Homo sapiens: one gene and its partners. The protein of the gene in region 2 interacts with the protein of the main gene of each other region in a pairwise test. Each region holds a gene or a part of one and is shown on either strand. Other genes may lie near its edges. The genes, in order: SPG21, ARL8A, UQCRH and MOCOS.

Evidence for each region.
Region 1: the proteins of ARL8A (region 2) and SPG21 interact in binary tests that used the Homo sapiens proteins (3 or more experiments, as listed by UniProt).
Region 3: the proteins of ARL8A (region 2) and UQCRH interact in binary tests that used the Homo sapiens proteins (3 or more experiments, as listed by UniProt).
Region 4: the proteins of ARL8A (region 2) and MOCOS interact in binary tests that used the Homo sapiens proteins (3 or more experiments, as listed by UniProt).

What each region holds. Positions count from the first base shown.
Region 1 is NC_000015.10:64,986,915-64,994,327, forward strand, and holds the start of SPG21 (maspardin), read right to left. Parts: upstream 3,001-7,413; 5' UTR 2,751-3,000; intron 2,557-2,750; exon of another isoform or gene 2,492-2,556; intron 1-2,491. UniProt on the Homo sapiens protein: May play a role as a negative regulatory factor in CD4-dependent T-cell activation.
Region 2 is NC_000001.11:202,141,721-202,149,358, reverse strand, and holds the start of ARL8A (ADP-ribosylation factor-like protein 8A), read left to right. Parts: upstream 1-4,621; 5' UTR 4,622-4,786; coding exon 4,787-4,909; intron 4,910-7,638. Other genes in the region: PTPN7 (tyrosine-protein phosphatase non-receptor type 7), read left to right, coding at 1-124, 660-753. UniProt on the Homo sapiens protein: Plays a role in lysosome motility. In neurons, mediates the anterograde axonal long-range transport of presynaptic lysosome-related vesicles required for presynaptic biogenesis and synaptic function. May play a role in chromosome segregation.
Region 3 is NC_000001.11:46,306,694-46,313,715, forward strand, and holds part of UQCRH (cytochrome b-c1 complex subunit 6, mitochondrial isoform 1 precursor), read left to right. Parts: intron 1-2,407; coding exon 2,408-2,434; intron 2,435-3,203; exon of another isoform or gene 3,204-3,288; coding exon of another isoform or gene 3,289-3,351; intron 3,352-3,461; coding exon 3,462-3,623; intron 3,624-7,022. UniProt on the Homo sapiens protein: Component of the ubiquinol-cytochrome c oxidoreductase, a multisubunit transmembrane complex that is part of the mitochondrial electron transport chain which drives oxidative phosphorylation.
Region 4 is NC_000018.10:36,183,618-36,190,498, forward strand, and holds the start of MOCOS (molybdenum cofactor sulfurase), read left to right. Parts: upstream 1-3,879; 5' UTR 3,880-3,922; coding exon 3,923-4,064; intron 4,065-6,881. UniProt on the Homo sapiens protein: Sulfurates the molybdenum cofactor. Sulfation of molybdenum is essential for xanthine dehydrogenase (XDH) and aldehyde oxidase (ADO) enzymes in which molybdenum cofactor is liganded by 1 oxygen and 1 sulfur atom in active form.

The DNA of each region.
Region 1 (7,413 bases), on a different chromosome or scaffold from region 2:
AATCTATTCTAAAGGAGGGAAAATAAAAACATGTTTAGCAAATAACATCTACTCAATAGATTTATAAAACACCTTAGCTAACTAAAGCCAGAAAGTGTGCTTCTAGAGTCACCAAATGGGATAAATCATTCATAGCTTTGAAATCAGTTGCAATGCACAAACCAAACCACCATACAAATACACACATACACAGGCACACATATTCACGCGGTCATCCTCTTCTTTCCCATAGCAGTAAATAGAAAGATGTTCCTTACCAACAGTCTTCAGAATAATTCACAACCACCTCAGGATGCCAACGTGTTAAAAGTAATCTTACAAGATGGAGAGATTCCACTCCGCTGTGACTAAATTTTTGTAGAGACAAGTAATTTTAACACTTGTGCTAGTTTGGCAGTACATGAAAGGTAAAATGGATACCAAATGTTGCATCTGACCAACTGACGTCTAAGTGAAAAAAAGATCACTGCTGCAAAGGGAAAACAGCTGTGAGTGGTATGAATAGGAAAGTTTGTTCTCCTAGCTCTCTTTCATCCACCAAAGGGGTATACTTTTCCAAATCATAAGAGGAATATTCTGTATATGGCAAAGGTTAACTGAGATTGTGACCAAACTGGTCAGTACTGAATAAGAAAGAATGTGGACCATGAGCTCAAAACTGATTTTATCTCTCATGATTTTGTTCTTCACAAAAACAAAAGCACCTGTTCATGCTGGTGGGAAAAGAGCCACAATATTAGCCTTAATCTTGCCTAAGGAAAGCCCTCTTCAGGGTGTGCTGTGGACTCCCTGTCTTCTCTGGCCCTTGTGCTGCTGGACAATAAAAACTGCCAGTTGTGGCTGGGTGCAGTGGCTCACGCCTATAATCCCAGCACTTTGGGAGGCTGAGGCAGGTGGATCACCTGAGGTCAGGAGTTCGAGACCAGCCTGGCCAACATGGTGCAGCCCCGTCTCTACTAAAAATACAAAATTAGCTAGGCGTGGTGGCACATGCCTGTAATCCCAGCTACGCAGGAAGCTGAGGCAGAAGAATCACTTGAACCCGGGAGGCAGAGGTTGCGGTGAGCCGAGATCACGCCATTGCACTCCAGCCTGGGCAACGAGAGCGAAACTCCATCTCAAAAAAACAAACAAAACAGCAACAACAACAAAAACAAATTAGCTGGGCGCGGTGATGGGCTCCTGTAATCCCAGCTACTTAGGAGGCTGAGGCAGGAGAATTGCTTGAACCTGGGTGGCGGAGGTTGCAGTGAGCTGAGATCACACCACTGCACTCCAGCCTGGGCGACAGAGTGAGACTCTGTCTCAAAAAACAAACAAACAAACAAACAAAAAAACCTGCCAGTTGTGACTATGCCCCTATCCCTCATGGCTTCAACAGAACCTGCCACTTTAAAGTCAACAAAATCACCTTTATCAATGTTTAAGTCACATAACCAGCATAATTAGTCAGAGGTTTCTGCTACTTTATTTCAATCTATAGTTGATGTGCATTGTGGAAAATCTGTGCTTATAAATACTAGCCATAACAAAATATTAGAAGCTGAGAGTCTCTGGGAGATGCAACTGGCTTTTTAATGCACGTCTCCATCCCTCACCACAGAAGTACACAGCTATCCTTTTCTTAGATCTCTTCAGGGGAGATCTATCCCTCTTTTCTTCATTGCATTATCTCTAAACCTTACAGGAGGAAAAGGTGCCTACCTGACATCTGTGACATCTCTTCTCATGCTCTTGGGAAAAAAGCTTTTGGAATTTGGACACAGCTATTAAGTTACTCCTCAGTGGCCAGCCGCGATGGCTCACGCCTGTAATCTCAGCCCTTTGGGAGGCCGAGGCGGGCGGATCACGAGGTCAGGAGATCGAGGCCATCCTGGCTAACACGGTGAAACCCCGTCTCTACTAAAAATACAAAAAATTAGCCGGGCGTGGTGGCGGGAGCCTGTAGTGCCAGCTACTCGGGAGGCTGAGGCAGGAGAATGGCGTAAACCCAGCAGACAGAGCTTGCAGTGAGCTGGGATGGCGCCACTGCACTCCAGCCTGGGCGACGGAGCGAGACTCCGTCTCAAAAAAAAAAAAAAAAAAAAAGTTACTCCTTAATTTGTTGAATCTTTGTGCCAAAAGGAGCTGAACCAGTGTAGGTGGAGACAAAGGAAGCAGCATAAATGTCTAACTTATAACTCCCCAGGAAAACGAGAAGAGGAAAAATGAGACACTCCGGTCCCGCTCTGTTCCTCATCCCCCGTTTACAAACCTTACACCTGGCCCACACTCAGTAACAACAAAGACATCTATCACTTTCAGGCCGAGGTCCTGTCTCCAAAATTACTGGCCTCTGCTCACAGTTCTTAAAAGTTTGCTGAGAAAAAAAAAAAGAAAGAAAGAAAGAAAGAAATGTTCCTGGGCTGCAGTCGTGTAGCCCCAGGATGGGTTTACAGGAGGATGCCCCGGTTAAGCCCTGTGCCGCCCCCACCTCCCGCTGGAGACTCACACACAGCTCCCCGCCAGTCCCACCGGTGACAGCCACACAAAGGCAGGGTCACAAGCACACCGACCACCCCACAGCCCAGATTCGGCCCCAGACACACACTCACAAGGGCACGTGATCACGTGCGTGGTCACATGGACCGGCCCACTCAGAACACACTCACAAAGTCACACCAACCAAGGCAGCCACGCGCCACACACACACACCTACAACCCCGCATACCGCACACCCAGCCGCTTCCCAGGGCTTCGCCCACCCTCACCTGCCGTGGCCGCCCCCACGTCCCTTCCCCTCCTTCAGGAGGCCGCTCTTCGCTCCAGTACGAGCGCGGGCCGTGGAGGCGGCTGGGCCCGGGTCGGGGCGGGCGGCGGAGCACTCGGGACCCACGGGCACAGCAGGCTGCGCGGTGCGTGCGGGAGGCCGGCCTCTGAGGGGGCGGGGCGCGTGGCCGAGCGAGCTTGGGCCGCCGCGCTCCCCCCGCCCGACCGCCGCTCAGCTGGCGCGAGACTCCCGCTTCCGGGTTCTCAGAGGGCGGGGCCACGTCGCGAGGAAGGGGCGGTGCTGCGTGGCCCCGGCGGTCGCCACGGCGACGGGCGCGGGGGGAGGCTCCGTGGGATGCTTGGCTGCGGCTGGCGTGAGGAGAGGGCTGAGTTACGTCTGGGTCAGCCTTAGTTCTGCCCTACGTACCTAGGAGGAGGAGGAGGTGGAGGAGGCGCCTGGCCCCTTGGGACCTGCTTCTTCTTTCAGTTCGCGTTTTCTCTGTCGTGTACAGCTTTGGAGGGACACCTTTGGGTTCCAGACTTTGATGAACACAACTTTGTATACTCTTTTCTTAGGAACATTTTTTTTCCTTTGGCACAACCGTAGACGCTCTCCGTAGTCCTCCACTCAAAGCCTCCGCTTCCTTTTTGACGTTCTGGGGATTTCTGGGAACATACGCCCACCCATCTTCCTGTTCCTTCATCACTTTTCCCTTAAAATCAGAGAGAATATTAATACATTTGTAATCATTGTTCTTAAGGTGTTGCAGACGTCACGTCTTAAGGTGTTCCAGACTTCACGACTCCTTTTTTATTAGTAAAATATTTCTGAAATTATGATAAGGTGAATAACATGTAAATCTCCTTGTTTTGAATTTTTTTTTTAGGGATCCTGCAACAAGGTCCTGTTGAAAGTGCCTCTCTCTAATATGTTTTAGGGAAAGCTTGTACCCTGTTTTAGGGCCTGTAGACTTTGCCTTTACCTAGGCAACTGTTTATGGGATTAAGGTCAGGGAAGATTCCAACTAAATTGCATCCTACTTAGTTATCACTTCTGTCCCCTGGCCCAGGAGCCTTGGGTTCCACTCTAGAACTTGGACAAATCCCAAAAGCATTTTCCAAAAGCACGGTGACATACTTACCTTTTTCTTTCTTTCTTTTTTTCTCTAAATCATTTCTTTCGGGGTTGCAACTCAGTCGCAGGAATTCATCTTTTATTGTAAGCACCACATAGATGTATAGAGCACGTTTCCGTGGAGTATTTTAAGTTGGGGGCCTTTTCTCCAACATTTGGAATCGTTTAATGGGTGGAATAACTTGCAAACTACTGGTTGTCTCTGAAACTGGTTATGGATATTCATTACATTAGTTGTCTATTTTCCCAGGTGGTCTCGAAGCTTCAATCTAGAGCAAAGGGAATAGAGTGATTCCACCAGTCCATTAGCACATGATTAGCCCATAAATAATAGGTACTAAATGTATATTGATTGTAATCCCAGCACTTTGGGAGGCCAAGGTGGACGGATCGCTTGATTGAGCCCAGGAGTTCGAGACTAGCCTGGGCAACCTGGGAGACCCTGTCTGTACAAAAAAATACAAAAATTAGCCGGGCGTGGTGGCGCATGCCTGTAATCCCCGCTACTCAGGAGGCTGAGATGGGAGAATCTGTTAAGCCCAGATGTCGAATCCACTGCACCACATCCTAGGTGACAAAGCGAGAGACCTTGTCTGCTCCCAACAAAAAACTATATTGAATGAATTAATGAGTGGAATAAATAAATCTATCCCCATTTCCACATTTGTTCCTAAAGCTGTATTCCTTAGACCCCATCCCTAGACCCCATTTAGTAACAGCTTTAATGAGACCTAATCTATGGATATACCCGTATGTTAAAAGTCATTGTTCTGTTAGTGTGGTAGTAAACTTTGACAATTGACAATAAAAAAAAATCACTATGTAGATATGTTTTGTTACATATCAACTTTTATTACAATGTAGACCAATCCAAAAATAATAAATGTTTTACTTCTTTCAGGAAGGGAAACCATGGTCATGTTTGTGTCCTCAGTTGTTCCATAACACATGGCAAGCACATTGTCCCTTTCCTAATCCCAACAAAGAACATTTAATATCTGTGAATTCCAGCTGAATTGTAATGCACAAATTCAGGCAGCAAACTTTTGATTCAGGCAGGTCCCAGTGCAGGCTGACCTGGTAGACATGGCTGTAAGGATTTGCAGCTGTTGTGGCTGGGGTCTGCCAGATGGTTCCCACAGCACCAATTCATCTGTGAGAATCTCACAGAAAAACTGGAATGTTCACAAAATATGCTGTGAACACCAAGCAAAGTAAACAGATGGCCAGCTGGCTCTCAGAATTACCCAAACCCGGGCTCTGTCCCTCTTAATTTATCTTTTCACAGGATAATATTTGTTTGAAAACACACAAAATAATCCCAGATCCAGAAATATCCCTATGCATGTGTATACATAAGTGAATGCACTTTTTTTTTTTTTTGAGACGGAGTCTTGCTCTGTTGCCAGGCTGGATTGCAGTGGCACATCTCAGCTCATTGCAACCTCCGCCTCCCGGATTCAAGCTATTCTCCTGCCTCAGCCTCCCGAGTAGCTGGGTCTACAGGTGCCTGCCACCACACCCAGCTAATTTTTGTATTTTTAGTAGAGACGGGGTTTCACCATGTTGGCCAGGATGGTCTCGATCTCTTGACTTCGTGATCCTCCCGCCTCGGCCTCCCAAAGTGCTGGGATTACAGGCGTGAGCCACTGCGCCCAGCTGTGAATGCACTTTTTAAAATGTTTGGAGAGGTATGTACCAAGCAGCTAAGTGATTACCTCGGAGGAGGAACTGGGGATGGAGGGAGTGGTGAAGAACTTTGACTTTGGATTTAATAGTTGAGTTTATATTAAAATGTATTCATATATTATCTGTGTGATCAAAATAATTAAAAGCAGCCAGGCATAGTGGCTCATACCTGTAATCCCAGCACTGAGGGAAGCCAAGGCGGGTGGATCACTTGAGGTCAGGAGTTCGAGACCAGCCTGGCCAACATGGCAAAACCCCCATCTCTACTAAAAATACAAAAATTAGCCGGGTGTGGTGGTGCACACCTGTAATCCCAGCTACTGGGGAGGCTGAGGCAGGATAATCACTTGAACCCACCTGGGAGGCGGCAGTTGCAGTAAGCTCAGATCATGCCACTGCACTCCAGACTGGGTGACAGAGTGAGACTCTGTCTCAAATAATAATAATATTAATAATAATTAAAAGCAACTATATTTCTGTAATTCCTCTGCTATAAATCCTTCAATAGCTCCCCACTGCCTTCAAGCTAAAGTTCAAGGTATGCAGAGTAGAGCAGGTCTGGCTCTTGACTCAGATCTCTGTGGGGCCAAAGTGCTCTAGTCATACCAACTGCTTGAAGGGCCCCAAACACCTCCTGATGTCTCAGGAAGCCTCTAGGCTTTTGTATATGCCTTCCTTCCATTTAGAATGCCTCCCTCCAGTGCACCCATTAGAGTGAAAACATTTATTTTACCCCCAGGAACCACGGATGTGTAAAAAAGTGAAAGAGAAACAAAACACTTGCTTTTTCAGACTAATACTAATTCTTGGAATACCATCCCCTTAAAGCTTTACAGGGTACAGTCGATTGCAGTGTTATATACCAAATTATGCTGAGACCCAAGATTGAAAATGAATGCTCTTTCCTCATTGCCAGACCAAGTCTATGTAAAATGTATACTGCACTGGATTGGAGGAATCAGACACAAAGTGGGTATTCAGGAACTGGCTTAGAAAAATGCTGATGTGGCTATTTTAGAGGTTACTACCTAAAGGCATTATCAAACAGAAGTTATATATAGTTATTTTTAATTAATAATGTATTAGTTGTCATCTAGGAGTTCAGAAACCTGAGTTTTATCTTTGAGCAAAACATATCCTCTGCTAGGTCTGGTTTCCTTCTCTGTAAAATGAGGCCAAGGCTAAACTAAATTATCTGTAAGTTCTTTCCAATTCTAAGATTTTAGATTTTATAAATTTATAAGAGATTTGTCAAAGAATCTTTACAGCTGGGCGCGGTGGCTCACGCCTGTAATCCCAGCACTTTGGGAGGTTGAGGCAGGTGGATCACCTGAAGTTGGGAGTTCAAGACCAGCCTGACCAACATTGAGAAACGCTGTCTCTACTAAAAATACAAAATTAGCCAGGGTGGTGGCATGTGCCTGTAATCCCAGCTACTCAGGGGGCTGAGGCAGGAGAATCGCTTGAACCCGGGAGGCAGACATTGCAGTGAGCCGAGATCGCACCATTGCACTCCAGCCTGGGCAAAAAGAGCAAAACTCCATCTCAAAAAAAAAAATAAGGATCTTTACATCTTTACAGCAGTCTTTCCTCAAAGCTGCCCTTCTCTGATAATATTCCTCCTCCTTCTTGCTTCCAATCAAACTTTAAAAAAAAAAAAAAAACAGGCCAGGCACGATGGCTCATGCCTGTAATCCCAGCACTTTGGGAGGCCGAGGTGGGTGGATCACGAGGTCAGGAGATTGAGACCATCCTGGCTAACACGGTGACACCCTGTCTCTCCTAAAAATACCAAAAATTAGCCGGGTGTAGTGGCGGGCGCTTGTGGTCCCAGCTACTCG
Region 2 (7,638 bases):
GGAAACTTGAGGCTCAGGAGTATTCCTGGCCCGACCCAAGGCTTCAGAGATCTGGTTTTGTCCCAGGAGCTGAGTGGATCAAGGAAGACCAAGTGTCAACATGGGGCATCACCCCTCAGCACGTGTAAGGGGCAGAGGACTTCTCTCACAGCAGATCTGAGGGGCAGCAATGAGGAGTAGAAAGTAGAAAAGATGAATATAGGTGGTGGGGCATGGTGGCTCATGTCTGCAATCCAAGCAGTTTGGGAGGCCAAGATGGGCCAATCACTTGAGGTCAGGAGTTCAAGACCACCCTGGCAACATGGTGAAACCCTGTTTCTACTAAAAATACAAAAATTAGCTGGGCAAGGTGGCAGGCACTTGTAGTCCTAGCTACTCAGGAGATTGAGGCAGGAGAATCACTTGAACCTGGGAGGCAGAGGTTGCAGTGAGCTGAGATCATACCACTGCTCTCCAGCCTGGCTATCAGAGTGAGACTCTGTCTCACAAAAAAAAAAAAAAAAAAAAAAAAGTGAAAAGATGAATATAGGCAAAGGAGTTGGCATGTTCTTTGAGAAAGTCAGGACTTTCCCAGTAGGACCACAGGGATGTTTGACTGGAGCCATTCAGCCAGCACCCTGACCCTCCTTCACTCATGGTCTGTGTGTTTCTCCTTGCAGAGGGGGGATGATCCAGACGGCAGAGCAGTACCAGTTCCTGCACCACACTTTGGCCCTGTATGCAGGCCAGCTGCCTGAGGAACCCAGCCCCTGACCCCTGCCACCCTCCGGTGGCCCAGGTGCCTACCTCCCTCAAGCCTGGGAAGGTGGGTCTGGGGAAAGTGGGCCGAGTGATCTGGGGGTACCCCTTGGGTTGGTGTGGGGAAGGAGTGCCTCCTTAGTGGTGCTTGCAGTCACAGGAAGCAGCAGCAGTAAGGACAAGGGGCCGGATTCCAGGTCTTCAACACTGGCCACTCCTCTGCTTCCTCTGTTGGCCCCAGATGGACAGTAAGGGGAACCTCCAATGTCTCTCTGAACTTAAAGACAGGAGCTGGCATTTATGACAGACAAAGAAAGAAGCCCAGGTGTCCTGGTGTTCTCTGAGACACTCTTTGTGAGCTTCAGTTTCCTGTTCTATAACATGAACATAAGTGCTTAGCTGCCATGAGGGAAAAGTAATGAGAGAAGTTTCTAGAAGCCACTCCAGCCACTCCTTCCTGGGGCTGACAAAAGGGTGATTCCAAGATCATCCTTCACCCGAGGTCCTGCCCAAGCACAGGCCAGATGCAAGAATGGGGAAAAGTCTGGTCCTGATCTCCAAGTCTCAACATCCTATCAGTGACTCTGCTCCCTGACCACACATCGGAAGGGCTGGATGACCCCAATCAAAAGAAAGAACAAGGACTCTGGTTACCCTTGCCTCCACCCATGTGTCATAAGAGTAGGCTACAGAGGTGACCAGGCCTGGCAGTTGAAATCTCTGGAAGAGGGAACATGTGGGGACTACTCAGAGGCAAAGAGGAGCTGCTCCTGCCTCCATGGTTGCTGGCCACTCCCACCAACTACTCTTAGGGAGGCTAAGCAGTCTCTGTTTTGCTTCCATGGCTCAAATAATACCCTGGGTATGCAGGACCCACTATACCTTGCATTTGCTGAGTACACCTAGAGAGCTTGGCTGTTTCCAAAAACAATCAGGGTCATAACCATCCATGCAGACATGGAGGCTCGGCTGAACCAGGACTCCTCACTGTCTACCTGAGAGAATGAGCACCCCTCATCCATCTCAGCATCAACACAATTTCCAGGGGACCTCAGGTCTACCTCAGGACTGAACGCCACACCTCAGGATTCCTCCTCCTTGAATCTGAGACTGGCTGCCCATTCTGAGATGGGGATGAAGGTAAGATGCCGCATCACCAGGCACGCCGCCCCTGACAGCTGCCTTGATACCAGCTCTCTGTGGAAACCCCCGAGGAGTTGGATCTGGAGAACAGCTGGGCCTCCTCACTCAGGACTTCTCTCCTGAAGAACACGCAGTGCTAAAACTGAGGATGATTTCCCTAATGCTTCTGCTTGGCCTTATGGAGGAGCTGCTCCTTCCTTACAGCCTTGGGGATGGACTTGCCCACACCTCCACCTCCCCTGAGCCCTGTGAGAGGCACGACTGTCTATGCCAATGAGGCTCGGTGGGGGGCTCTCAAGTGCCTGATCCTGCCCTGGGCTCAGAGCCAGCCCAGAGGGAAGCAACTGCACAGCCCCACAGGCCCTCCCTGGCACTGTCCCCCCAACCCCATCTCAGAGCTCAGAGGGTACAAGCTCCAGAACAGTAACCAAGTGGGAAAATAAAGACTTCTTGGATGACTGACTCATTCCTTCTTTCCATCTTCTTCTTGGCCCTCTGGGGCCTCTTTGTAGCAAGAGAGAAAGACTGCAGACCAGGGACAGGCAGGCTGCAAATCTTTGCCCTTGGGATATGCACTTTTCTAGCACTTCCAAGGACATAAAGTAAGGTGAAACCAAAGTCAATTTAGGAAGTGAGACAGGGTGGACCCTCATAGCCTACCCAGGCAGCTGTAACAATTCACACTACCGTAAACCATGTGGCTTCTAAACAACAGAAATGTATTGCTGGCCTGGCGTGGTGGCTCATGCCTGTAATCCCAGCACTTTGGGAGGCCGAGGCAGGCGGATCACGAGGTCAGGAGATCCAGCTAACACAGTGAAACGCTGTCTCTACTAAAAATACAAAAAATTAGCCGGACGTGGTAGCACACACCTGTAGTCAGCTATTCGGGAGGCTGAGGCAGAAGAATTGTTTGAACCCTGGAGGTGGAGGGTGCAGTGAGCTATCATGCCACTGCACTCCAGCCTGGATGACAGAGCAAGACTCCATCTCAAAAAAAAAAGAAAAAAGAAAAAAAGAAATGTGTTGCTCACAGTTCTGGAAGCTGGGAAGTCTAGGATCAAGACCCTTGCAGACTCAGTGTCTGGCTATTAGGCAGAGCCTTCTTTCTGTCCTTGCATGGTGAAAAGGTTGTGGGCTGGTATTCTTCCCCCTAATCCCACCGGCCCCCTTTATAAGGCTCTACCCTCATGACTTAATCACCTCCTAATACCATCACTTTAGGGATTAGGACTTCAACCTATGAATTTGGGGGGACACAAACATTCAGTCCATAGCCTTTATCTTAGGAGCTAGAGGAGGACTTATAAAGGGCAGAGGTTAGAAAGATGGTGCTTAATAAACCAGAATATTGGCCAGGCTCATGCCTGTAATCCCAGCACTTTGGGAGGCTGAGGCAGGCAGATGGCTTGAGCTCAGGGCTTCGAGACCAGCCTGGACAACATGGCAAAACCCCGTCTCTACCAAATATACAAAAATTAGGCTGGCATGGTGGCGCATGCCTGTAGTCCCAGCTACTCGGGAGGCTGAGGTAGAAGAATCACCTGAGCCCGAGGAGGTGGAGGCTGCAGTGAGTCGAGATCCCACCGCTGCACTCCAGCCTGGGCCACACAGTGAGACCCCATCAAAAAAAAAAAAAAAAACAATATTATGCTAGCCGAAACCTTGTGATTCTTCTACTTTGGTAACTGTTTGACTATTTGGGGTCATCTAACTCCAGTTGATTGGACAGATATGGTTGATATTGATAGTTTACCCACTTTTGACTAAAACAATAGACTACATATGACTACATTTGAAAACCAAACCCCAACGGGCAGCCAGCATAGGCTGGGGACTGCCCGAAGCCTGAGCCTACCCGGGACTGCCAGCTGAGGTTGTCAGCCTGCCTGAGCAGGTCCTATGGGTGGGTCTTGCAAGGAGAGGGGCAGGAGTAAGGCATCTTTGCAGGCACTCCAGACCCACTTCAAGAGGAGAACTATCACTTCTCCTCCTGAAGAATACTCTGCTTTTCACCAAAACAGGGCAACATTTTCCTTTGTCACAGACGTTCCTCACTGAAAACCCCCTGCCAGGACTGTATCTGTTTGGGTATCTTGGGGATGCTGGTAAAAATCCGGAGCAAGTTCAAGCGTCCGTTTCACTTGGGGCCAGAGGCTTCCTAACAAGTGGTCGGGGTAAATTGTGGTGAACAAAACAAGATGGAGTATTAAAAGACCCGAATACGGTTGTCCCTCTGCACTGGGTGCATTTTGAGAGGATGGGACTGTACCCAGGAATGCTCAGAGGCAAGGGTTCAGGGACAAAAAAGCCTCCATCTGCCTCCCTGTCGTAGAGATCTCATCTCCGTGTCCTGGGAAGTGGGTGACCCACTCTCCTTCAACCTGAAAAGGCTCCTGCTTAACCGGAACCTCACCCACCTCGAGCCCACCACCCTTTAAGAAAGGGGGTGCCAGTCAGGGCGCGGCAGTCGGGGACAGGGTCTAAAATAAATTAGACCCCATTTCCCAAGCGCCTCTCGACGCCAGCTGCCGGTCAACCCCCGCCGCTGAAGCCTGCGGATTCCCTGCTCACCCCACCTGCGGATTCCCTGCTCACCCCACCTGCGGGTGCGGCCCCTGGCCCCCCGGCTCCAGCGAGGGAGGAGCGCGCGCTCGGGTGCGAGCAGGACACGGCCCGGCCGCGAGGGAGGGCGGCGGCGGCGGCGGAGGAGGAGGGCGCGGAAGCCACACCCATCGGCGAGCCGATTCCGGGGCAGCGAGTCGTCGGCAGCCGCGCTCGAGCCTCCGCCCGCACCGAGCCGCGGGACCCGGGCCGTACCGGGGAGGGGCCGCTCCGGGCCGCAGCGCGAGGGCAGCGAGGGGCGGCGGGGACCTGGCACCGGGCGGGGCCGGCGGCAGCGACCATGATCGCTTTGTTCAACAAGCTGCTGGACTGGTTCAAGGCCCTATTCTGGAAGGAGGAGATGGAGCTCACGCTGGTCGGGCTTCAGTACTCGGGCAAGACCACCTTCGTCAACGTGATCGCGGTACGAGGGCGTCGGGCGCGGGGTCCCCGGGCGCGGGCCGCGGGTCGGGCCTGTCCCCGCCCGCGCCGCGCCCTGCTGAGCCGGGGTCGCCGCCTGGCATAGCCGGGCACGGCCGGGCGCCGGGCGGGGGAGGAGCCGGCCCCGAGCGCTTGGGGCCTAGTACGGCCCGTGCCGTGGGGGACCGGGGCGGCGCGCGACCCGCTCTCTCACCCGGGCCGGTACTGCACGGCTGGGGGCAGGGGAAGGGGGACGAACAGACAGGGCCGGTGCCACGGGGCAGGCGGCACCGAGGGGCTCTCGAAGCAGGAGGGACCCGCTGCCGGCTGAGACGGGCCCCCTCTGGCCCCCGCGCAAGGGGGCATGACGGGGCGAAAGTGCACGGGCCTTCCTGTCCCGCGGGTAGAGGGTCACGGGACGGGGCGGCCGAGAGGCTTGAGGAGGGGGTTTGGGCAAGCCCAGCCCCACCCAGAGGGCTTAACCCCTCCTTGCCGGAAGAGGAAGCCCCGGCCCTATTGAGGGGGAGGGGAGGTATCCCCCGGGGTAGAGGAGTCAGCTGAGGCCCTTGGCTCAAGCCCAGACTCCTCCCCAACTTCTCCCCGACCCGCAGTGTCTAGCCGGGGGTCCAGGGAGGATCGCATGGTAACGGGAGTTTGGAGACTCCGTCTGGCTCAGAAGTTTGCAGGAGCAGGTGCTCCCGACAAGAGAGGATGAGGTGTAGGGGCACGGCCCACTGGGGCCTTGGGAGAGTGGCTCTAAGGGCTTTGGGTCGTCAACACTGAAGTGGGTGATTGTAAGTCTTTCAGCGCCAGGGGAGTGGTGGGGAAGGAGTTAAAATCTCTCTCAAAAAAGGGGAAGATGAGCTCCATGGGTGTGAGCTGAGGCTGCCGTAATGGCTGCGGCCTGCCTGTCAGAGCCAGGCTAGACAGGGCTTGTGGGTCGAGGAAGCATGGGACAGGGGCTGGGGTTGTCCAGGGACCTGGCCCCAGTCCCAAAGCTGAGGTTTCCCACAACTGTGAGTTGGCCAGATAGTAACCAAAGATACTGATGAGATAGGTCAGCAGAGGAATGTATCCAGCCGGCCTAGGTACCTCTACCTGTCCGTGTTGTTGCCCCACCTTGCAGAAGATGGGCCTCCTCGACAGTTCTCAGCGTCCTAGAAGGCAGGGGACGTCACTTCATTGGACCTGAGGCATGAAGGCAGATGGAAAGCTCGAGGGGCGGGCATCCTGTGGTTACACAATTGAACACTGGCTTCCTTTCCCAAACATGCTCTGCAAATGACCTCTGCCCTTTCTCGACCCAGTGTCTCCTGTCTCCTGACCTGACAGGGCAGGATCTTCAGGCCAATGCTGCGGTTTTGGCACAGTAATTTTCGGAGCTAACACCCCTGGGCTCTGTCTGCCTAGGCTCTGCCCTTGGGGTCAGAGACCCTCTGGTTAAACTTGGCATTGACTTAGGCTCTTGGATTCCCAGAGCAGGCACATAACACCTGGACTCTGACCTGACTCTGCAGGCCTAGGTGGCTTGGGTTCTAGGCGTTTAGGTCTGAGAAATGCAGCTGGGCCTAGGTATCTCCTCGTTCCCCAGGGTGTTACTATAGCTGTGCTCTGGGACAGGGATCCACAGGTACCCGGGTGGGTTCGGTTTCTGGGTCTGCAGTTGAGCCTTTGACAGGAGGGCCCCCTCTAGACCAGCATCATATCCAGAGAGTTGGAGACTATAGCAGGCCAGAAACAGAACCCAAGAGTCCCAAATTCCCCTGCCAGGGTCAAGAGTTCCTGTGATATACAGGAAAAGCACCCCATCTCCAGCCCACAAGGTCCCCTTTTTAATCTTAAATTTGCCACTTCCGCTGGCACATTCTAAAAGAGCAGGCAAGCTAAATTCCCTTCTTTAGAGAGGCTTCCCAAGGAAAACCACCCCATGTGGGCTGCAGTTGGAATTCCAGTGTCCCGGTCACTCCAGTGTTTTCAGATCCTCTGGGGCTACCACACTGGCATTGCTGCCCACCCCGTGTATAATCACAGTTGAGTGTCTTCCAGAAAGAAACGAAGAGTTGGGACCCCTGGGCTCTGTTCCCATGCCTACCACTGAATTTCTGAATTACCTGTGCCTGTTCATTTGGCCTCTGTTTGTCTCAGATCTTTCGCCATTGGGTTTTTTCTACTCACCCTATGAGGTCTGGCTGTAAATAGAAATTGAGTTTAGTGTGTCTAGCTGCTCAGCAGGTTAATGTGAGCTGGAAAGAAATTATATACACTGCTTCTAAGAACCTGAAACATCAGCCGGGCATGGTGGCTCACGCCTGTAATCCCAGCAATTGGGAGGCCAAAGTGGGGGTTTCACCTGAGGCTAGGAGTTCGAGACCAGCCTGGCCAACATGGTGAAACCCCATCTCTACTAAAAATACAAAAATTAGCCAGGCATGGTGGTGGCCACCTGTAATCCCAGCTACTTGGGAGGCTGAGGCAAGAGAATTGCTTGAACCCAGGAGGCGGAGGCTGCAGTGAGTTAAGATCGTGCCGCCACTGCACTCCAGCCTGGGCAACAAGAGCGAAACTCCGTCTCAAAAAAAAAAAAGGAACCTAAAACATCCTTTGAGTTCTGAAAAAGTTGTGATGCTAGAAAAGTGGGAGATGTTTTGTCCTAGGAAACAACAGGGTCATTTTCAAATATTTAAAAGTGTCAAAGACTGTCCTATGGAATAACTAGTCTTGGAGTGCCCAAGG
Region 3 (7,022 bases), about 160 Mb from region 2:
CAGCATTAAGAAACCTTGTTAATGAAAAACTAGAATTTACATCCTAAATAGCATCTTCATATTTAGAAGAAACCTTTGCCAATTGTGAGAATAAATAGCCTGGATTCCAAATTGAACCTTTCCTACCCCTCACTCCCAGCTTGTATGAGCTTTGGTGGCTTCACTGAATGGCATGGTAGAGGATGAAACATGTATTAGGACTTTTTTTGGAGACGGGGTCTCACTCTTGTCACCCAGACTGGGGTGCAGTGGTACAGTCATAGCTCACTGCAGCCTCAAACCCCTGGGCTCAAGGGATCCTCCCACCTCGGCCTTCTGAGTAGCCATGACCACAGACGTGCGCCACCATGCCCGGCTAATTTATTTATTTTTGAGACGGAGTCTCTCTGTCGCCCAGGCTGGAGTGCAGGGGTAGGATCTTGGCTCCTGCAACCTCTGCCTCCTGGTTTCAGGTGATTCTCCTGCCTCAGCCTCCTGAGTAGCTGGGATTTCAGGCGCGTGCCACCATGCCCAGGTAATTTTTGTATTTTTAGTAGAGACGGGGTTTCACCATGGTGGCCGGGCTGATTGAGAACTCCTGACCTCAGGTGATCTGGCCACCTCAGCCTCCCAAAGTGCTGGGATTACAGGTGTGAACCACTATGCCCAGCCTGTTTTTAATTTTTTTAGAGATGGGGTCTTGTCATGTTGCCCAGGCTGGTCTCAAGCAGTCCTCTCACCTGGCCCTGTATTGGAGTTCTGAAAACATGATTCCTGAGCTAGTTCTTTTTATTTCCCTAGATACCTTTTCTTTCCTTGCCCCCAAATGTGGGTATCTGCATGCACAGGCAGGCAAACACCTTATTTCTGAGGTCAGATTTTACTATATCCCAAATTTAGGCCTAAACTGTTGCTCCCATGGGCAGTTTTTTACACTACTATCCTTGAAGAAGAAGGAAACTAAGTTTGAGGTTGTGCATTTGAATCAGAAGTGAATAGGTGGGGTCTGTTCTGTATTTCCAAGCTCATGAGTGGAGTTGTGCACTTTTATTTGATATACTTAGTCTACTAGGGGTTCTGGGAGTTCAGCAAGCCAAAAAGCAGTGACTAACCATCCTTAGTTAAGCTCTGACCAAACAAGGGTTTTTAGGTTTAGCAGTTTTCATATTCCTAATTCAAGTTCACAGTCTAGAAAAAAATGGGTTTTCCTCCTAACTTGGTTTGGGATGTAAGGACTAAATTTTGCTATTTGTAGCAATACTGGGACAAATACTTTAGATTATGTAGGCCCCATGTGAACATCTGGCAGCTTGAATCTGTATCAGAAAATGTCTAATTACTGTTTATTATCTCTAAACTGGGATTACCTCCTTAAGGGACTGTTGTGATTAATTAAATCATAAGAGATATGAAGGTGCTTTATAAACTGGAGAGTATTAAGCACACTTAGGTTCTTGTTAATGAAAGTGAGATGGTGTCTCTGTCTTGAAATATACCTGGGATTCGTTTTAACCAAGTATGGTAAGGTGACAGACCTGGAGACAACCGCCTTTGAAAGAAGAGTTTATTATTACTTAAATTTCCTGAAAGAGAGGGATATGCCACACAAAAAAATGCAGAGCTATATGGGGAAGTGTCTGAGCTCGTCAGGAGGCAGAAGGTATGAGGGGAAGGAAGCATGGCTCAGCACCTTGGTTTCTATGGGAAGGAATTGGTGGGCAGCGTAGGTACACTTGCTCAAATTTAGGATTGGATAGTTTGAATAATTTCGTTGGGCTCTAGCTTATAGGGCTGGTTCCTAGTTGTCCTATATTTGTCCCTGGGGTGATTTAGAGAAGGGGAAACAGGAGCTTAGTGTACAAAACTTAGATAAAGGAGGCAGGGCCAGGCTGAGTGGCTAATGCCTATAATCCCACCACTTTGGGAGGCCAAGGTAGGAGGATTGATTGAGCCCAGGAGTTTGAGAGCAGCCTGGGCAACATAATGAGACCTTGTCTCTACCACAAAGAAAATTTTTAAATTAGCCAGGCATGTGGCGTGTGCTTATAGTCCTAGCTACTCAGAAGGCTGAGGCAGGAGGATCACTTGAGCCCAGGAGTTTGTGGCTGCAGTGAGCTATGACAGAGCAAGACTCTGTCTCTTAAACAAAAGATAAAGGAGGCAGTTTGCTACAAGCACTTTGGATAGTTACGTTGCATATGAAAGGTATGCTCGCAGGCAAGTTTGCTGTCTAAAAATTAGCCCTGGAAGAGCAGGATTAGCTCCAGGATTAGCAAGGCCTCTAAAATGTAAAAACATCATAAAACACAGAAAACAAAATAACATCGTTAATAGTGTCAGTGTCTATCGTCAGTAATTACATCAGTATGATCAGGAATAAATATGTCATAAAATTGCTGCTGACATTAATTTTGTTTTCCTTTTGTAGGAGGAAGAGGAAGAGGAGGAATTAGTGGTAAGAACTGTCTCAGGTTTGGAAACATCTCAGTAAAAGCAGGGTTTGAGCTTCATGAAATTCTAAGGGCATTTTAAGGAGTTTTTACTTGATACCTTGTAGATAATGGGGGTGGAATAAGCTTTGATACTTCCTGTGCAGTGGAGAGTTTAGGGTGTGAGCCTTGGAAGCTGAGTCTGTTCTGGGTTTGGGGCTTCTTCAGTTGTGGTACCAGGGAGCAGATGGCATCTTGAGGGCCTGGCACTCAATCATCTGCTATTTGTGGTTTAATAAAGAACTTTGGGCTAGGCATGGTGGCTCGTGCCTGTAATCTCAGCACTTTGGGAGGCCAAGGCAGGCGGATTACCAGCCTGAACAACGTAGAGAAACCCCATCTCTACTAAAAATACAAAATTAGCCGGGCGTGGTGGCACATGCCTGTAATCCCAGCTACTCGAGAGGCTGAGGCAGGAGAATTGCTCGAACCCGAGAGGCGGAGGTTGTGGTGAGCTGAGATTGCGCCATTGCGCTCCAGCCTGGGCAACAAGAGCAAAACTCCGTCTTAAAAAAAAAAAAAAAAAGAACTCTGAAGGAACCTTTGTTAGATAGTCCTTCTCTATGTTAGCATTGCCTTTCTAGTTGGGCAGCTGGGGTGCATAGGCCTGGTTCTCAGACAAGGGGATTTGAAGTTTCAGACGTGTCATATTCCAAAATGCTGTGTTAACAAGTAAGGCCTCCTATAGATCTACTTCAAGTTTGGCCAGGTTTCCTTTACCACCTTGTTTTTCAGATAGGACTGAGGCTTTCAGTGCATACTGGCAACCTTGGAAGGCAGGAATGTGAAACTTTTCCCTACTACTTAGCATCAGAATTGAATGGGAGACCGCATTCTGCCATTTCTGGCGGCAGTGTGGCTCTGCCAGCTGGCCTTCTGCACGGTAATTCAGAGGCAGCACCTTGGTTTGGTGGTTGTGTTAATCAAAGCATATGTGTTTGGTGGGTCTCTGCTAAAAATGCCCATTTTGTTTTTTTTCTGTTTCTACATCAGGATCCCCTAACAACAGTGAGAGAGCAATGCGAGCAGTTGGAGAAATGTGTAAAGGCCCGGGAGCGGCTAGAGCTCTGTGATGAGCGTGTATCCTCTCGATCACATACAGAAGAGGATTGCACGGAGGAGCTCTTTGACTTCTTGCATGCGAGGGACCATTGCGTAAGTCAGTGGGAAGTCAGGAAGGGGAAAGGTTGCAATGGTCAGGGAAGACTTGGTGCCAACAATCTTTCCATGCTAGGGAAAGGCCCATCAGTTACTCTGGGCCCAATATATGTGACATATGGTGCGCTGAGCATTTTATGTAAATAACCTATTCTATTTTATTGAGAGGGTCTCACTATGTTGTCCAGGCTGAAGTACAGCGGCATGATCGTAGCTCAGTGCCAACCTTGAACTCCTGGGCCTAAGTGATCCTGCCTTGGCCTCCCAAGTAGCTGGGACTACAAGTGCATGCCACCATGAGAGGCTAATTTTTTATTTTTTAATTTTTTCTAGTGACGGGGCCTTGTTATGTTGCCCAGGCTGGTCTCAAACTCCTGGGCTCAAGCAATCCTTCCTTCCATCTCGGCCCTCTGAAGTGCTGGGATTATAGGCATGAGCCATTGTGCCTGGCCTATAAATAATCTTGCCTAGGGCGCGGTGGCTCATGCCTGTAATCCCAGCACTTTGGGAGGCCGAGGCGGGTGGATCATGAGGTCAGGAGATCGAGACCATCCTGGCTAACAAGGTGAAACCCCGTCTCTACTAAAAATACAAAAAATTAGCTGGGCGCGGTGGCGGGCGCCTGTAGTCCCAGCTACTCGGGAGGCTGAGGCAGGAGAATGGCGTGAACCCGGGGAAGCGGAGCTTGCAGTGAGCCGAGATTGCGCCACTGCAGTCCGCAGTCTGGCCTGGGCGACAGAGCGAGACTCCATCTCAAAAAAAAAAAAAAATAATAATAATAATAATCTTGCCTAATCCTTACTACTTCCACTGGAGATAGGTATCATTATCCCATTTCACAGATAGAAACTGAGGCTCAGAGAAAAAAACATAAACATCCCAACATGCACCACTAAACAGTGGGGAAGCTGGATTTTGTACTTTTCAATAACAGACTGTTCTTTAAAAATAATTTGTATTGGCCGGGCGCGGTGGCTCACGCCTGTAATCCCAGCACTTTGGGAGGCGGAGGCGGAGGCGGAGGCGGAGGCGGGCGGATCACGAGGTCAGGAGATTGAGACCATCTTGGCTAACACAGCGAAACCCGTCCCTACTAAAGTACAAAAAATTAGCCGGGCGTGGTGGCGGGCGCCTGTAGCCCCCAGCTACTCGGGAGCCTGAGGCAGGAGAATGGCGTCAACCCAGGAGGCGGAGCTTGCAGTGAGCCAAGGTTGCGCCAAAAAAAAAATAATTTGTATCCTCAAATGTGTCTAATATATAGTAGTTGGTCCAAAAGGTTGCTTTTTTTTTTGAGACGGAGTCTTGGTCTGTCGCCCAGGCTGGAGTGCAGTGGCGCGATCTCGGCTCACTGCAAGCTCCACCTCCCGGCTTCACGCCATTCTCTTGCCTCTGCCTCCCGAGTAGCTGGGACCGCAGGCGCCCGCCACCATTCCCGGCTAATGGTTTTTTTGTTTTTTTTTGTTTGTTTGTTTTTGTTTTTTTGTATTTTTAGTAGAGACGGGGTTTCACTGTGTTAGCCAAGATGGTCTCAGTCTCCTGACCCCTGTGATCCACCTGCCTCAGCCTTCCAAAGTTCTGGGATTACAGGTGTGAACCACTGCACCCAGCCTTTTTTTTTTTTTTTGAGATAAGGTCTTGCTTGCTCTGTCACCCAGGCTGGAGTGCAGTGGCACAATTATGGCACACTACAGCCTCTACCTCCTGGTTCAAACAATCCTTCTGCCTTAGCCTCTGAGTAGCCAGGACTATAGGCACATGCCACCATGCCTTGGTAATTTTTTTTTTTTTTAATTTGAGACTGAGTTGCACTCTGTCACCCAGGCTGGAGTGCAGTGGCGCAATCTTGGCTCACTGCAACCTCCACCTCCTGGGTTCAAGCGATTTTCCTGCTTCAGCCTCCCAAGTAACTGGGATTAAAGGTGCACGCCACCACACCCAGCTAATTTTTTGTTTGTTTGTATTTTTAGTAGAGACGGGGTTTCACCATGTTGGCCAGGCTGGTCTTGAACTCCTGACCTCCAGTGATCCACCTGCCTCAGCCTTCCAAAGTGCTGAGATTACAGGCGTGAGCCACCGCACCTGGCCCATACCTGGGTAATTTTTGTATTTTTTGTAGAGATGGGATTTTGCCGTGTTGCCCAGGCTGGTCTAGAACTCCTGGGTTCACACATGCCACTCATCTCAGCTTCCCAGAGTGTTGGGATTACAGGTGTGAGATACCATGCCTGGCCTCAAGGGGTTGTTTTTTAAAAGTAAACTCAGGCAGGGCATAGTGGCTGACGCTTATGATCCTAGCACTTTTGGAAGACCAAGGCAGGAGGACCCCTTGACCCCAGGAGTTTAAGACCAGCCTGGGCAAGATAGGGGAACCCTGTCTCTACTTTTAAAAAATCAAAATTAAAAAAATAAAAATAAACTTCTGCTTGACTCTTACATATAACACAGTAAGGTATTTTACATAAATTATACATAAGCAAAGTTTGATGTGGTTGCTTCTATTAAAACTAATTGGATGGCCAGTAAACGTATGAAAAGATGTTCAACATCATTAGCCACCAGGGATACTACCATGAGATAACACTTTATACCAACTGCCCACTAGGATGGCTATAATAAAGAAGATAACGAGTGTTGACGACAATGTGGAAAAGTTGGAAACCTCATACGCTGTCAGTAAAAGTGTAAATTGGTACAGCCACTGTGGAAAACATCTGGCAGTTCCTCAAAAGGCTAAATATACAGTTAATATATGACACAGCAATTACACTCGAAGATATATACCCAAGAGAAATGAAAACATATGTTCACATAAAAACTTGTACACAAATGTTCATAGAAGCATTATTTATACTACCCAAAAAGTGGAAACAACATAAGTGTCCATCAGCTAGGCTGGGCACTGTGGCTCATGCTTGTAATCGCAGAACTTTGCGAGGTCAAGGCAGGCAGATCACCTGAGCCCAGGAATTTGAGACCAGCCTGGGCAACATGGTAAAACCCTGTCTTTACAAAAAATATATATATAAAAGCCGGGCGCGGTGGCTCACGCCTGTAATCCCAGCCCTTTGGGAGGCGGAGGCGGGTGGATCATGAGGTCAGGAGATCGAGACCAGCCTGGCCAATATGGTGAAACCCCATCTCTACTAAAAATACAAAAAAATTAGCCGGGCGTGGTGGCGGGCGCCTGTAGTCCCAGCTACTTGGGAGGCTGAGGCTGGAGAATGGCGTGAACCCGGGAGGCGGAGCTTGCAGTGAGCTGAGATTGTGCCACTGCACTCCAGCCTGGGCGACAGAGCGAGACTTCATCTCAAAAAAATATAGACAGATAGATAGATAGATAGATAGATAGATAGATAGATAGATAGATATAGATAACCAGGCAAGCTGGCTCACACC
Region 4 (6,881 bases), on a different chromosome or scaffold from region 2:
ATGCTGCCTTCCTTCCCCCACCTCCTCCTCCAGGACCCTCTGGGCAGGTCTCCCAGCAGCCCCAGGTCTGGGAGGCTCTTTACCCCAAGCCTGGACCTTTGTGGGAAGGACTTTTCTCTAGCGCTCTGCAGCCTGGAGGGGTGACCTGACTATGAACCTATCTCCTTCCTCATCCCAGGAGCCTCTCAGGCACAGAGACTGCCTTGCTGACTGTTGTCTTCTCAGTGCCTACCATGTTTGCAGCAGGGCACAGCTGCCCAGTGAACACTGAATAAATGCCCCTGCCAAAAGCACTAGTAATTTTCAAGTGAATCTTCTAGTGTTTCAAGCCTGGACAGTTGCAAGAGGTTATAGCTGGTTTTCCTGCTCCCAATTCTCACAGGCTCATCCAGTCTGGTCATGGCCATTGGATAGTTCTACCTAAATCACTCATAGGGCACTTTCTAGTTCCAAAGCCTGCCTTTCCTTTGTTTGTCTACCACCAACTCCAAGCCTAACTCTGACAAGCACTCATTCATCTTCTGCTGAGTGAGTGAATGAATGAATGAATGAATGAATACATGAATGAATGCTTTGTATATAGTAGAGATTCTTGCAAGTGGAGCCCATTGCTAGGAGACACTGGGGGTGGGAGTTGTTAACCTGGGAGCAAGGGGATTTCGGGAAGCATCATCAGGAGGTAAGGAATCAGGCTCAGTGAGGTGCACCAGGGACTAAGATTCACACGGGGAGAGATTTAAAGTACAAAATTGAGGGCATCTCACCTGTCTGCCCAACTGGCTCATAGACACATAATTTTTCAAGTTCTTAGGTGAGAAAGGGTTGCAAGTGGGAGTTGGAAGAGCTGTTTTCCTACCTAGCTGTAAACTTTAGGTGCAGAAGCTGGCCTCTGGGGAACTCAGCATGGACCAGCTCAGGTTGCTTGGAAGCTCCAAGGCCAGCAGCTGGACCAGGTGAGAAGTGGCCATGGCAGCCTATAGCACAGGGCCCAGGAGATCACTCCTCCTCCCAGGTCAGACATTCCTTGGTGGGGATAGAGGTTCTGCTTAAGGCAGGGTGAGAGCGAGCAATCTGACTTCTGATAGTCTCTTTCTGGTAGGAGCGGCCCAGGGAATCTTGGTGAAATGCACCTAAGGGTGCCAATTAGAGGCCAAGACTCCCAGTGTTTCTCACATTCCCTACTCCTCCTCCCATCTTGACTGGCTCACTGCTATGGCCCACTTCAAAGGCTTCCTCCTTTGGGCTACCTTCCCTGGATATCTTGCTAGGAAGTAGCCGCTTCCTCTCTTTCAATTCTATACCTGCATCCTGAACCAGTGCTGCCTGGGCACTCAGCCCACATTGCCTTGTGGCTAGTGTAGGTTCATTTTCCTACTCAGCTGTAGGTGCTATCTTCACATCCACCCTCCCAAGCACACAGTGCCCTAGATGGGCATAGCCAACTGCTTTAAAGTATTTCTGGATTAATGGTAGATCCGTGATTTTTAATAACCTTCAGGAGTTCTGCACTGACTTGGCCTATTCCAATCCATCACTAGGCGAGCTTGTCTGAAGCAGCACCCCTGTGGACTGGTGGTTTGTTAGTTGGCTGTAGAACTCCTTGAGGAGAGGTTCTCCTTACATTTCCAGGGAAATGACCTAGGCCCTCCCTCCTCAGAGTGCCATTCGTGAATGGGGCATCAGCATCACCTGGGCTACTTAGAAACACAGAACCTCAAAGAGTCAGAACCTGCCTTTGAATAGGCTCTCTAGGGGATTCATGCAAATGAATGCCTGGAAACCCTGGCCTAGGGGAGACTCTCACCAGGAAGCAGGGCTTTAAAAGGATGGGTGAGGAGTGACACACTGAACAGCTGCTGGGAGGACCAACTCACCCCTCTCAACTTAGATGGGGAAACTGAGGCCCTGGGAACCACGGTGGCTCACACCAGAGAGTTAGCAAAACACACTTCCCTGCCTGGGCTCTGGAGACTGACTTCCCAGGTGCTAGCTTGTCTTCTAGCTGTGTGCCCGTGTGCAAGTTATTCTGCCTCTCTCTGCCTCAGCTTCCCCATCTGTAAGAGCCACCTCCTAGATCTGCATATTTAATCATTGAACGACCAGGACAGGTAAGAGTGTACACAGTGCAGTGCCTGGCACACAGTGAGGCCCTGTAACTAGCTCTTGTTATTAGTGCTGCCCAAAGCCACATTCACAGAAGACAGTCCAGTATCCAAAGTGCCTGCTTGAAGCATGGCCAGAAGGCAAGCAGATGGTGGGGTGGGCAGTGATGTCAATGAGCAAATGCCTGCATCCATCCATCAGTACATTAACTCCTCCTCGAACAACTATGGGTGTTTGTCGAGTAAGGTCCTGGACATTCAGCAGTGAGGGAGAGAGCGGGGGTGGTCAGTGGGCAGAGGCCACTGAGGAATATGGGTACCTGGGCATGGACCCTAGCGCTGCAGTCCACAGACCCCTGGGTCTCCGGCCAGGGGGAAATGAGCTCTTAGTGGCGGGTCTTTCTCTGGCCTGGTATCAGGGGCCTGGGCGGGAGAGCCAGGGCTGCGTGCTGCCTTCCCATGGCTCTCACGCTGGGCACCGGTATGCATCATGCATCAGCAAGGATCCTAGGGCATCTGCGGCCCATACCCTGGGTGGCAGCTGGCCTGGATGCAGCACAGGTTGAGCTCTTGGGGCATAGGCCTCCTTCCCACCTTGTCCCCCCGCTGTATGCCTCCAGGGCCTGTGGGCCGCCTGCACCTGGTCGCCGGCCTTGGGTTCTCCACCGAGCCTGCCTCTGAGTTATCTCCCCTGAGCCCCAGCACCTGCCGCCCATCCGCACTGTCCACCATCCCTGACATTCGATTCCCCCACGAGGCACCTCGCCTGTGCGTGCAGTACCTGTTTTGCTTCCACCCCATTCCCAGCAGCGGGTTCCGCACCTGGGATCGCACGTGAGATTTCCCCCCACCCCCCAACCGCATGCCTGGGCTCTACTACCTGCACCTGCCGCCCCACCCCTGCATCCCGCTCCGCACTTCCCGCGCATAGGTTTGGCCAGGCCCTCCCTATTGAGGCACCTGTTCTCCAAGACAGAGCCGCTGTGTCCCAGGTGCTCTGGGTGCAGGCGCGAGTGGGGATTGAAGGAGGCGCTCTTATTCCACTCTGTCCGGGACAGGGGCGGCTTTGTCCTAGGGCACTCTTGCTTTAATAGAGAGGGCCCGGCCACACCCACGTGCGGGAAGTGCGGGGCGGGATGCAGGGTTGGGGAGGCAAGGGCAGGAAGTAGGGCCCAGGACGCGGTTGGGAGGGCGGGGAAGCTCAGCTCACTTGGATCCCAGCTGCAGGGCCCGCTCCGGGGGAAGCCCCCGAGCTTCCCGGTTCCGAAAGTGTGCAGCCACTGAGAATTTATTAGCCTCGTGGATCCCTAATCTTTCCCCTTTTCTACCCTTTGGTCAGCCGCATTCTAACAAACGGCAAGCACACGCCCCGCTGGGTAGCAGCAACCCGAGAACGCCCCCACCCCCGCCCCCGCCAGACGCCGGTTCCCGCTTGAGAGGGTGAGGGTCCCGAGACCCCTGCGAGGAGGAGGGTCGCGGGGTTCCAGGATGCCGATGCCAAGCAGGAAAGATCACCTCGTTGCTTCTTCCACCGGCCTCTCCGCGAGACATAGCTAAACTTGAACTTGGCATTCCAAGGGTCTGGAAACATCTTCGTGGGACCCATCGAGAGGTTGTTTAAAGACTGGCACCCGCTCCCGCGCCCAGGTGGGGAAAGGGCTGGCCAGAAGTGAAAGTCCGGTCGGGGCGCCACACCTAGGCTGCGGATTCCGAGAGACTGGGAGGCTGGAGGCCTGGGAGGCGTGGCGGGGGCGGAGTCGCCGGGGGCCGGCTTCGCGCACTTCCCGGGCCCGGCCGGCCTGGATGGACTAGCCGGGGCCATGGCCGGCGCGGCGGCGGAGTCAGGGCGGGAGCTGTGGACCTTCGCGGGTTCCCGGGACCCGAGCGCACCGCGGCTAGCCTACGGCTACGGCCCGGGCAGCCTGCGCGAGCTGCGGGCGCGCGAGTTCAGCCGCCTGGCAGGTGAGGCGGGCGGGCAGGCTTGGGGGACACGAGGTTTCTGGAACCGACGTGGACGGATCTTTTGCTCCTAGTGAGAGCGGCGCTACCTCATTCGGGCGCATTTTGAATCGAAACTCCAGGAGGGACGTGTCCACGCGTCCTCCTAGTAGACACGGCTCCCTGAGGTCCCACCTGCAGCCCCAAGGCTTCTTGCTACTCTTACTCTTCCGACTTTCCGGTGGGCAGGACCAACCTAGCCGTCTTCCCCTTTTCCCGCCCTCCGCGAGCGGGGCTTAGGATGGTTCTTGCCCTCTCTTGCGGGAGACCCCTCACTGTAAAGGGCCTGCTGGGGCCGGGGTTGCAAAAGACAGCATGTCCAGCGGCCGTGACCCTTCGGATGTCCTCCCGAGGTAGGAGCGGTGCGTGGACCGCCAGCGCCCGGGCTGGGACAGCACCTCTGACGGCGCGCCAGGTTGGGACCGGGAGGCCAAGGCCTCTTGGCCGGGGCCTCCCGAGGCTGCGCTCTGCAGACTCCTCTGGGATAGCCTGTATTCAGCTTTGATTTTCGAAACCTCATTTTCCTTACTCTTACAGCGTCAGAACAATCCCTCTGAGCTCCAGTTCTCTGGGGGACTAGAAGAATTAGCAAACAGTGCAATTTCACCTTTAAGAACAGGGCGAGCCTGTGAATTAGACAACACCAAGATCACATCGTGCCTTTCCTCAGAGCGGAACAGGCTGATGAAATTGCAAATCAAGCTCCATCTGGCCTTGGCCGACCCAGCCCTCTGCTGCCAGGGCCCAAGTTCGTGACTCATCCCTCTGCCAGGGACTTTGGGTGCAGGGCTTCATCAAGCCCCAGGGCCGCGTGCCGGATGGTCAAGGAGGGTGTGCAGGTGAAGTGGGCACGTCTTGGCACAGGGCACCGGGGTTTGAGTGTATCTGCTCTGTCGCGATGAACAACTGGTGACTGCTCCCCTTCTGGGGGCAGAACAGCAACCATGACTTAGGTTTCACTACTCGGGTAGCTGATTTCAGCGCTTCGGGTCACTTCCTGGTGTTGTGGAGGGTAACTGTGTTTTCCCTTTGGGGGCTGTGAGAACTGTGGCCTCCTCCTGTGTGTCTCCTCTGGCTTCCTAAGTAGGGAGAGTCAGGAGGGAGACGGGGGTGCCTTCTGCCAACCTCTCTATTCACTCCTCATCCTTCCCTCTCGCAGGGTCACCTGCTGGAGACAGCTCCTCACCCTTCTTTCGTATTCTCTCTCTCTCTCTCTCTCTCAACTATTAATTATGGAAATTTCCTACCACTCAGAAATAGAGGGGTACTATGAATGCCTACAGGTGCTGGGGAGGGAGGCTCTCCATTCTTTGAAGCAACTCTTCAAGGCTACCTGAGTAATTATATCAGCACCGCACCTCCTTAATCCCCTAAATCTCCTCCAGCTGTGATCTCTCACGCCCACTATTGGCCAACCTCTCCCCTCAATGCTACCCTGGGAAAGTAGAGCTATGTTCTGGTCCCCTCCTGGTTTCACTCTTGTCCCTCAGAGAACAGTACTTTTCCCCTCAAATGCAAAATTGGGATGTGTCAGCCAGGCTGGCCCTCAGAACTCGTTACCACTTACTGTATGTCTGGTAGTGTTGTGGGCATCTTTTATTTAATGCAAGTTCCTTGTATTTCCTCTACATTACGGTTAAAGCAGACATTTGTGCACTAATCTGACGCCCCTCCCACTGCTGGGAGTCTTGGAACATGTCCACTTGTTTTTCTCCTAGAAACAAGACAGAGAGAGGGCGGGAAAAAACAAACCAAAATAACATCACCTCTTCCTCGTTCCTCCTCTCCCCTCATGAAGTTTTTCTGCCAATTTGAGAATTACTCTGGTTAAGTGGTGGCTCAGAATAATTAAATGCTTAAGATTTAAGTGCTGAAATGTGTTACCTAAAGATTTGGATGGGAACTTCCTTGCCTTTGTGAAGGGAGAGTATTGAATATACGGATGTGTGTCAAGGGTCTCTGGAAGCCTTCGTGCTGAATCATGACCACTCACCATGCTGGAAAGAGAACTGGAGGGGGATGACCTAGAGCTGACCCTGGAATTCTCTTTCCTGAAGAAGGTCTGATGCCATTTAACTTTGGGGTAATTCACCTGTTTCTAATAACAGCTACACCTGTGTCCCGAGCATTGGACTGGATGCTGCCATATAGCAGCTCATTTAACCTTTGTCCCATCTGCAGATGAAAGAACAGGGGCCCAGAATGGCTACTGGTGGAGCCAGGATTCAAGTCTGGGTTGATTGACTTGGATTTTGTACTGTTAACCCCTATGCTGCCTGACTTTCTCCTAACATCACATCTATGGGTGATTTAACACAGCTTTCCCACCCTTTTGTTTTTCCTGCAAAATTAACCATTGGACCAAAAGCCAAAGCATCTTCTTCTCCAATAGCTACTTGGCCCTCCAGAAGACTGTGGCACAGTGTGAGATGCTCCCCAGCAGCTTCCAGGTCTCACCTGTGGCCTTGATGCCTGGGTGAACAAAAGCCTTTCTTTTGGTTTGGTACCTTTGTATTTCTGAATCTTTAGTAAAAGCGAACATTGTTTTAAAAGTATCTTTTTGGACTAGCTCATACATTTGATATGGTTTGGCTCTGTGTCCCCACCTAAATCTCGTGTTGAATTGTAATTCCCAGTGTTGGGGGAGGGACCTGGTAGGAGGTGATTGGATCAAGGGGGTGGATTTCCCCCTTGCAGTTCTCGTGAGGGTGCGTTCTCACAAGATCCGGTTGTTTAAAGTGTGTAGCACAAACTGGGTATGGTGGCTCAAGCCTGTAATCC